Linked DNA regions of Homo sapiens: region 2 is linked to region 1. The links come from fine-mapping of genetic effects on gene expression. A gene starts in region 1. The other region holds a variant in brackets. All regions are shown on one strand. Distances are between the middles of the regions.

Evidence for each region. PIP is the estimated chance that this variant, and not a neighbour inherited with it, causes the effect.
Region 2: its variant is the best candidate, but not a certain one, in a credible set for the expression of NOD2 in nasal epithelium (TOPMed, PIP 0.60).

What each region holds. Positions count from the first base shown.
Region 1 is chr16:50,690,716-50,695,876 of GRCh38, forward strand. NOD2 (nucleotide binding oligomerization domain containing 2) reads left to right here and starts at 2,891. Exons shown (of 12, transcript NM_001370466.1): 1 at 2,891-2,947. RefSeq lists a silencer at 2,611-3,120 and enhancers at 3,491-3,540, 3,781-3,860.
Region 2 is chr16:50,729,853-50,735,013 of GRCh38, forward strand. NOD2 (nucleotide binding oligomerization domain containing 2) reads left to right here. Exons shown (of 12, transcript NM_001370466.1): 11 at 1-49; 12 at 1,895-3,223. The coding sequence ends at 1,967. CYLD-AS1 (CYLD antisense RNA 1) reads right to left here. Exons shown (of 7, transcript NR_184279.1): 4 at 2,366-2,508; 5 at 1-101. Among named protein-coding and RNA genes, the nearest start is that of CYLD, 9.7 kb to the right of the region's middle. RefSeq lists a silencer at 3,666-3,960. The variant A/C (reference allele first, on the strand shown) is at 2,364.

The DNA.
Region 1 (5,161 bases):
TTCCCTGTTCCCTTGGAGCTCATGCTGTCTTGGGTGAGAGACCAACAACAAAGACAATAAATAAGTAGAATACATAATGTGTTGTGTGCAGATAAGCGCTATGGAGAAAAATACAAAATAAAGCAGGAGAGAAGGGATTGGAGGGTGTTGCAGCTGTACACCGAATAGTTAGGGAAGGCCTTGCCGAGAAAGTCATATGGAAGCAAAGACCCAAAGGAGAGGAAGGAGGGAGCCAGGTAGATTTCTAAAGAAAGAGCATTCCAGGCACAGCAAAGGCAAAGGCCTGAGTGTAACTGCAGGTTTGGCATATTTGAGGAACAGCCAGGAGGCCAGTGTAGCTGGAGCAGAGTGAGTAAGATGAGAGTGTAAGAGGTGGGCAGAGAGGGTGCCAGAGGCCAAACAGCAATTGTAAGGACCTTGGCTTTTACTTTGGGATGGGAGCCATCAACAGAAGAGTTTCAGCAGAGGAGTGATAGAATTTGACTTAAAACAGCAACAACGACAACAACAGCAAAACCAACAGACTCACTCTGGCTGCTGGATTGAAGAAGGGCTGTAGATGGAGGCGTGGAGAATGGCCAGGAACTCCTGCTATCACCCAGGTGAGAGATGATGGAGATGTGGACCCAGGTGGTAATGGTGCATATGGCAAAAATGGGCTGCAGCTTGGAAATATTTGAAGGCCAAGCTGAAAAATTTGCTCCCAGATTGGATAGTGGGGCTGAGAGAAGATGGGTCGGGTTAAGTGTTCTAGGTTCAGATGTTCTGTCAGTTTTCTTAATTAATTTTCTGTTACTGGGCATTAGGGAGGTTTCTAGCTTCTCACTGCTGTAGGCAAGATGGTGGTGAACATCCTTGTAGATGGTTCTGTGCGCTGCCCAGAATGAATTTTCTAGGGTAGATTCAGTCCTTCTAATGCAGCATTTTCCAACCTTGGCTGACTGTGCACCACCTGCACAGGTATTTACTTGAAAGCGGTATGGGGTAGTGGTTAGAGCATTCATCTGTGCCAGAGGCCTGGGGCAAATCCCCATCTCTGGTGCCAGAGGAAAGGGGGCATCTCGAGGCTGGGGAGGCCCCTGGCAGGAGTGAGAAGTCCTGAGGAGCCCGGGCTTCAGGTCTCAGAGGGGGCCACTGTTTTTTGAGTACCTTCCTCTCTGTGGGACTCAGTTTCCCCATCTTCACCATGCCAGTGAGTGGGTGGGTGTAAGTGAGCGAGTCTGCCTGGAGGATCCTACTGCTGCTCTCTGCACCTCTTAGGGGAATCTCCTGCCTCCTCCTTCTCCCTTGGTGGGCGTGAGATCAAAGTTCAAATGTGTACCTCAGTTTCTGCATCTATAAGTTAGAGGCAATAATAGTCAATACCCTAGAGGTGGAAGTAACTGAGTTACTGTCTGTAAAGACTAGCACATGGTAAACACTTTCTAGATGCCAGTTATTTTCGTTATTTTTAAAAATTGACTTCACATTTTTTAAAACAACCAAATATGAGTTTCAAAAGGAACATTTACATTAACATGTTAAATGGAAAACCGGTGTCATTTGCTCCGGAGAACAGAAGAATGTAAAATAAAATATATTTAATGGAAACAAAAACAATGCTATTAAAGCTAATTAGATAGTTTCAGAGCCAAGTAATCTAGGCAGTGCTAGAAAGGTACTCAAACCCTATTAGTACTAAACTGAGAAATAAACTCCATTCAACATAAACGGAAAAACTGAAAGGAAAATGAAAAAAAAGAACCTTAAATGACCAGTCCACTCTTACCTAACATGTAACCTGTCACACTCTGGAAAAGTTTTCCTAGTTTTGGCTGTGTGTGCGTGTGTGTGTGTGTGTGTGTTGGGAAGTGAGGCGTGTGTTGGGAAGCGATGTGTGTGTTGGGAAGCGATGTGTGTGTGTTGGGAAGTGGGGTGTGTGTATATTGGGAAGCATGTTTGTGTGTGTTGGGAAGCGGTGTGTGTGTTGGGAAGTGGTGTGTGTGGGGTGTGGTGTGTGTGTGTTGGGAAGTGGTGTGTGTGTGGGGTGTGTGTATGTGCACGTGTGTGTTGGGAAGCAGTGTGTGTGGGGTGTGTGTGTGTTGGGAAAGCAGGGAGTGTAGTGTGTGTTTGTGTTGGAAAGTGGTGTGTGTGTGGGGTGTGTGTGTGTGTGCACGTGTGTGTTGGGAAGCGGTGTGTGTGGGGTGTATGTGTTGGGAAAGCAGGGTGTGTGTGTGTTGGGAAGTGGTGTGTGTGTGAGTGTTGGGAAGCAGGGTGTGTGTGTTGGAAGTAGGGGGTGTATGTGTATCGGGAAGCATGTTTGTGGTGGGGGGAAGCAGGGCGTGTGTGTGTGTGTATGTGAGTGTTGGGAAGCAAGGTATGTGTGTTGGGGGAAGCGAGGGCTGTGTGTGTATTGGGAAGCATGTTTGTGTGTGGGGGGAAGCGAGGGCTGTGTGTGTGTATTGGGAAACATGTTTGCGTGTGGGGGGGAAGCAGGGCGTGTGTGTGTGTTGCGAAGCGGTGTGTGTGTGGTGTGTGTGTGTGCGCGTGTGTGCTGGGAAGCGGTGTGTGTGGTGTGTGGTGTGTGTGTGTGTGTATGTGTATGTGTTGGGAAGCGGGTTGTTCCGAGGACTCCCCGATTCCCTCCTGGTTGAAACGTGGCCCAGAAAGAGAGGCACACTGGCTAGGGCACACAGCCAGGGCCGTCCAGCCCCGCAGGAAGCCCCGGTCCTGCCCTGTCCCAGGTAAGCCTGGCCAGCCCTGGAGCCGGCGCTGCGGGGCTGCGGGGCTGCGGGGCTGCGGGGCCACGGGACAGGAGCGGGTGCTGCGGTCCCGGCAGAGCAGGGGCGGGGTCCGGGCGGGGGCGGAGCCGAGCGCCCGCGCACCCGGAGCCGCAGCCCGAGCCGGAGCCGGAGCCGGGAGTCGTGGCCCGGAGTGGGCCTTGGAGTCGGCGCGCAGGCGGCTCGCGGTGAGTGCTGTGCCCAGCGCCTGGGGGTGGGCTGGGGGGAGACTGTGGGCGCCGAGGGTCCCACCCCCGGGACTTGAACACTTGGCTTCTGAGCCGTCCTGGCCGCAGGGCTTGGGCAAGGGTTGCCTCGGTTTCTCCTGGGGGAGTCCCAGAATGTAGATGGGAAGTGAGACGGAAAGGGGGCATCTCGAGGTTGGGGAGGCCCCTGGGCCACTCTTTTGATTTCCTTCCTCTCTGTGGGACTCAGTTTCCCCAGCTTCACCATGCCAGTGAGTGGGTGGGTATAAGTGAGAGAGTCTGCCTGGAGGATCCTGCTGCTGCTCTCTGTACCTCTTATGGGAATCTCCTGCCTCCTCCTTCTCCCTTGTTGGGTGTGAGATCTAAGTTCAAATCCATCCCTTCCCAGACAGCCCACACCAGGACCTGCGAGGCCACATCCCCCAGCTGTTTGCTCTCCTATGCTTCTCAGGTTGATGGAGCAGCCATCTGGTCCTGCTTTCATTCCAACAAACTGAAAAGCCCTCCACCCCAATCCCCCTGGGGAGGACCTCCTGAAGCTGCATGAGGGCTGGGGGCTGGACCCCTGCTTCTGAGTTTGCTCTTTCTGAGCCTCTCCTGCCATGGCCTTGGTTTCCCCATGGGCTGTGACCTAGCCTCCTCCAGGGTCCTTGTTCTACAGAGGGGAAACACCTGCCCTGTCACCCTCCCCTGACCCCTTAGTGAAAAAGACCAGAGTGACATCCCCACCACCTGTACTTGCCTGTCCCGATCACTCAGCCATGGGGCTGCTGGGGCCCCTGAGTTTGTTGGCTGCTCAAGGCCCCTTTGCCTCGCTGCACCCTGGGATCTGAGGCTGGAAGCATCCTCATCCAGCCCACCTCCCTCCTACCCAGTGCAGAGCCCCTCTGTGACACATGCCCAGTGGTGGGGAGCTTATTACTGATGAGGTGGCTTTTTAGTGCCTTGCAGCTCTTGTTTCCTTTAGCTAAAATCTGTGGCTTACAGATTCTACACCTTGGTTCCATGTCTGTCTCCCGGAGCCATGCAGAGCAAGTCAGTTCTTTCATTCTTTCCAGCAGTCATCATTCATGCACTGGATGAGACACGAGACAGAGCAGTAGGAAAATCAGACAAAACCCCCTGCCCTCATGGAGTGCACACTCTAGAAAGGAATGGACAGCAATGAAATAAGTAAATACATGGCGTAGCAGGTGGCGGGAAGTACTACGAGTAAAACAAAGCTGGGAAGCAGGATGGGGTGCTGGGGCTGGGTATTGCATTGTATATAGCACAACCAGGGAAGGCTTCCCCAAGACCACGATAGCTGGGCAAAGTCATAAGGAATTGAGGGGTGAGCCACATGAGTATCTGGGGGGCTGGGAGGCTTTGGTTTTCACTCTGAGCATGATGGGAGCACGGGTTTGGAACAGAGGAGTCACCTGCTTTGACTTGGGGTCTGGCAGGCCCATCTAGCTGTGGGGTGGAGAATGGATCATGGGGGGGGTGGGGTAAGGGCAGAAGGAGAGCCCGTTGAGCGGATCATTGCTGTCATTCTCGGGAGAGACCATGGTGTCTTGCCCATGGCCCAGAGGTGGTTAAAAAAAAGAAAACCAGACATTCAGATTTGGGATATATTTCAAAGGCCGTGTCGATAGGGTTTGGGGTGCAAGAGAAAGGTAGAGTCAAAGATGATTCTGAGTGTTTGGCTCGAGCTTCTGGAGGTTTGAAGCTGCCATGAACTGAAATGGGAGTTGCTTAGCGGAGAGATCAAGAGTTTGGTTTTGTGCTTGTGGAGTTTGAGCTGCCCATTAGGCATCAATGATGAGTAAGCAGTTGGGAAAAGTTAAGGGCGGAGGTTGGAGTTGAAAATAAAACTTTGGGCATCATCACCATATAACTGGTATTTAAAGCCACAAGAGCAGGTGGGCTCATCTAGGGATGGAGTGATATGGAGAAGAGAAGGGGTCTAACCATTGAGTGCTGGGGCCCCCAGTGTTAGGAACCAGCCAAGAAGACAGAAAGAGTGAAAATCAGAGAGTTGGGGTGTCCTGGAGGAAATGAAGAAAATGCCCCAAAGAGGAAGGAGGGAACAAATATGACCAATGCCCCTGGCAGAGCAAGCAGGCTGAGGGCTGAGGATTGAGCAATGGGAGGTCACTGGTGACAGTTTCACTGGAGCTGGATGGGGAACTAGAGGGAATGGGAGGGGATGGG
Region 2 (5,161 bases), 39 kb after region 1:
AAGCCCTCCTGCAGGCCCTTGAAAGGAATGACACCATCCTGGAAGTCTGGTAAGGCCCCTGGGCAGGCCTGTTTTAGCTCTCCGAACCTCAGTTTTTCTATCTGTAAAATGGGGTGACGGGAGAGAGGAATGGCAGAATTTTGAGGATCCCTTCTGATTCTGACATTCAGTGAGAATGATTCTGCATGTGAAGGATCTGATTCTCTGTCTAAGAAAGAAGTCTTTACCTCTTTAAGTAGGGAGCAATGATTTCATTTTTAAACCTTGACTATTTATTCAGCAACTTCTCTGCTCTATGAGATAGTGTAGGAATGGGGATGTGGTTGAAGAATGAAAAGAAAAGTCAGCTCCCGCCCTCCTAGAAATTGCATCTGCCTTCACAGGTCAAGGATATTGGATCAGACCTTCTGCGGTTCTGAATGGAGATTACACAGGTTAGGAGCAGGTTGCACAGTGTTTCCAATTCTCTATAATTAAAGCCATAGACTTTCATGTATTGAAAAAAGCAAGAATTGCATTCTTGACAGATTCTTTCATTGCCTTAAAAAGAATGACTAGCCTTGGGAGTCTGGGCAGCTGGGTCCAGTGTTGTAGACTTTCTCTCTGCTGAGCCACAGCTTCAAAGATTTGTCCTTCTTGTTTCCAGGGATCTATTTCTCAGACAATAAGTAAAGGCTTTCCCTGGCCTAATGTGCTGTAAGTGAATGCTACTATATATGTTCCAGGCACTGGGCTAGAGACTAATATTTAAAAGCCAGGAAATTTCCTATAGAAAATCTATATCTCAGGGTTTTCTCAAAAGAGCTGGGAACTCTGGATGCCCATTCATGATTCCAGTAGTTAACCAGAGTACAAGAAGGGCTGAGTCTTCTCAGATGGGCAAACCCACTCTGGCTGACTGCAGATCCACCAAGCCTATTGTCTTAGACCAGGACCCTTTGGCAACTCATTCCCATAAGCCTGTGACCCTTGCTTTAAATATGCAGGCCTTGTCTTCTCTCAAAAAGCACATCAAGGCTGCAGCGAATGCAGATATCAAATGATGAAGTTAAAAACAAAAGCTTTGCTGGGCGTGGCAGCTCACACCTGTAATCCTAGCACTTTGGGAGGCTGAGGCAGGAGGATCACTTTAGGCCAGAGGTTCAACACCAGACCTTGTCTCTCAAAAAATAAAAAATTCAGCTGGGTGCGGTGTAGTTCCTAGCCACTTGGGAGGCTGGGATGGAAGGATCCCTTGAACCCAGGAGTTCAAGGCTGCAGTGGGCCATGATTGCATCACTGCACAGGCGACAGAATTAGATCCCATCTCTTAAAAAAATAAAAAATTTAAAAGTGACTTCAAAAATCTATGCTGTGATGGAGAGATTTTTCCTTCTGTATGATTGTGATAGCTCTGTGGCCTATGACGTCATCAGGTTCTGGGCAAAGTGTAGGTTTTCTGTTTCTTTGTTTTTGAAACCATTGCACAGTCCTAAGAAACATCACATTCTGGGTCCTGGGCACCAGCCAACATGAGGTTGATATTTTAAGGGGTCTGATGTTATTTGCTGCCTGTTGATGGAACTTGGGAGGGCACCAGGGTTTGCTCATTGCATTCTTGACAGATTCTCTTATTGCCTTAAAAAGAATCACTGGCCTTGGGGAGTCTGTGGCTGGCTGGGTGCAGTGTTGTGGACTCTCTCTGCAGAGTCATGGAGCCTTGTTCAGAATGCTTCCTGAGCTGCCCTGGTTGGCCAAGGGTAAAAACAGCCCTGACTTCCCTGCAAGAAACACTGCAGCTGGGCCAGAGAGTCAGCCCATCCCAGGCATGGGTTTAAAAAGTGGAGGCTTTTGTTTGAAAGCCCTGCTCTAATTTTGTCCTCACTCAAACCTCTGTTCACTTGATCTGCTTTAGGCTCCGAGGGAACACTTTCTCTCTAGAGGAGGTTGACAAGCTCGGCTGCAGGGACACCAGACTCTTGCTTTGAAGTCTCCGGGAGGATGTTCGTCTCAGTTTGTTTGTGAGCAGGCTGTGAGTTTGGGCCCCAGAGGCTGGGTGACATGTGTTGGCAGCCTCTTCAAAATGAGCCCTGTCCTGCCTAAGGCTGAACTTGTTTTCTGGGAACACCATAGGTCACCTTTATTCTGGCAGAGGAGGGAGCATCAGTGCCCTCCAGGATAGACTTTTCCCAAGCCTACTTTTGCCATTGACTTCTTCCCAAGATTCAATCCCAGGATGTACAAGGACAGCCCCTCCTCCATAGTATGGGACTGGCCTCTGCTGATCCTCCCAGGCTTCCGTGTGGGTCAGTGGGGCCCATGGATGTGCTTGTTAACTGAGTGCCTTTTGGTGGAGAGGCCCGGCCTCTCACAAAAGACCCCTT[A/C]CCACTGCTCTGATGAAGAGGAGTACACAGAACACATAATTCAGGAAGCAGCTTTCCCCATGTCTCGACTCATCCATCCAGGCCATTCCCCGTCTCTGGTTCCTCCCCTCCTCCTGGACTCCTGCACACGCTCCTTCCTCTGAGGCTGAAATTCAGAATATTAGTGACCTCAGCTTTGATATTTCACTTACAGCACCCCCAACCCTGGCACCCAGGGTGGGAAGGGCTACACCTTAGCCTGCCCTCCTTTCCGGTGTTTAAGACATTTTTGGAAGGGGACACGTGACAGCCGTTTGTTCCCCAAGACATTCTAGGTTTGCAAGAAAAATATGACCACACTCCAGCTGGGATCACATGTGGACTTTTATTTCCAGTGAAATCAGTTACTCTTCAGTTAAGCCTTTGGAAACAGCTCGACTTTAAAAAGCTCCAAATGCAGCTTTAAAAAATTAATCTGGGCCAGAATTTCAAACGGCCTCACTAGGCTTCTGGTTGATGCCTGTGAACTGAACTCTGACAACAGACTTCTGAAATAGACCCACAAGAGGCAGTTCCATTTCATTTGTGCCAGAATGCTTTAGGATGTACAGTTATGGATTGAAAGTTTACAGGAAAAAAAATTAGGCCGTTCCTTCAAAGCAAATGTCTTCCTGGATTATTCAAAATGATGTATGTTGAAGCCTTTGTAAATTGTCAGATGCTGTGCAAATGTTATTATTTTAAACATTATGATGTGTGAAAACTGGTTAATATTTATAGGTCACTTTGTTTTACTGTCTTAAGTTTATACTCTTATAGACAACATGGCCGTGAACTTTATGCTGTAAATAATCAGAGGGGAATAAACTGTTGAGTCAAAACAGCCATCTTCCTTGTGACCAAACATTTAAAAATATTCTGGCTGGGCACAGTGGCTCACGCCTGTAATCCCAGCACTTTGGGAGGCCGAGGTGGGCAGATCACCTGAGGTTGGGGGTTTGAGACCAACCTGACCAACATGGAGAAACCCTGTCTCTACTAAAAATAGTGGAGGTTGCAGTGAGCCAAGATCACACCGTTGTCCTCCAGCCTGGGCAACAAGAGTGGAACTCCATCTCAAATAAATAAAGAAAATAAAAAATAAAAATATTACTAAAACTTGTCAAATTTTAAAGCACAATTTTCTACTTGAAGCGGAGGAAAATGATGTTTTCAACCCGATAATGTATAGCTTAAGGCAAAAGCAATTCTTAGAAAATAGCCAGGCAATCAAAACACTTTTGGCTTCAGTTTAGAAAAGTTTAACCCCGTGAAGTTTTCAGCTGTGCAGGAGCCTCCCCGTACCCAGCCTAAAAGGCTGCAACACATGTGAAAAGGCCCCTTGGCCCCCCTCGATTCCCTCAAAGTGGCTCCAGGAGTCTTTAACAGAAGGATGGAGAAGGTTTACTTATGGCTGGCTCTCCACAGCGAGCAGCCTCTCATGCAGGCCTTGTGTTAAAATAGTGCTTAGCTGCGTTTAATAAGCAAGGGATCAGGTGGTCACCCAGCAAGGTAAAATCCTACTTCCTTGAAAGGTTTTGCGTCTGGCTGACTCGGTGGTGTGGCATCTCCCTGGACCCTGCATGGGAGTGTGTCTATGGGTTTTCTTTGTGATTGGTGCCCTGTTCTGCCCAGACCATTGTTTCTGATACAGCAGATCAGGAGGAAGGTGGTGTTGAGTCTCCTTTCGCTGAGGAGTACACACAGCAGCCCATTTGCATAGCACTGTATTGGGTTGTCAGTTTGTCATCTTTAAATTCATTCAGCAATGAGGCCAGGCATGGTGGCTCATGCCTGTAATCTCAGCACTTTGGGAGGCTGAGGCAGCTGGATCACTTGAGGTCAGAAGTTCAAGACCAGCCTGGCCAACATGGCAAAACCCTGTCTCTAAAAATAGAAGAAGAAAAAAAAAAGTTAGCTGGGTGTGGCAGCGCACGCCTGTAATCCCAGCTACTTGGGAAGCAGAGGCAGGAGAATCGCTTGAATCTTGGAGGAGGAGGTTGCAGTGAGCTGAGATCATGCCACTGCACTCCAGCCTGGGCGACACAGCGAGACTGTCATAAATAAATAAATAAATAAATTCAGCAATGATTTATTAACCAGTTATATTAGGATGACCAGTGGATTGACAAAACAGACATGGTCCTCAAGGTGCTTAGGTGAGGGTGGAGGGAGAGGCAGGCAGAAAACAAGTCAGTTGAAAAAGACATGAAAAAGTCTTCATCCAGGCACTGTGGCTCATGCCTGTAATCTCAGCACTTTGGGAGGCCAAGGTGGGCAGATCACTTGCGGTCGGGAGTTCGAGACCAGCCTGGCCAACATGGTGAAACCCTGTCTCTACTAAAAATACAAAAATTAGCCGGGCATGGTAGCAGGTGCCTGTAATCCCAGCTACTTGGGAGGTTGAAGCAGGAGAACTGCTTGAACCCGGGAGGCAGAGGTTGCAGTGAGCTGAGATCACACTACTGCACTCTAGCCTGGGCAACAGAGCAAGACTCCGTATCAAAAAAAAAAAAAAAAAAGTCTTCAGGCTGTTAAGGGGCTGGTCCGAGACAGGTTGTCTGAGGAGGTGCCAGGTAAGCTGTGTCCCCAAGAATGAGAAAGATATGGCCAAGCAAAGAGTGAGAGGGAAGAAGGGAGCATTCTAGTAATGGGGGACAAGAGGTACAAAGACCCTGGTGAGGGAAGGAGCGTGGTATGCATGGTAGGCTCAATAGTCACTCCCGAACATATGTAGATCCTAATCCCCGGGACCTGGGAATGTTGCCTTACCTGGCAAA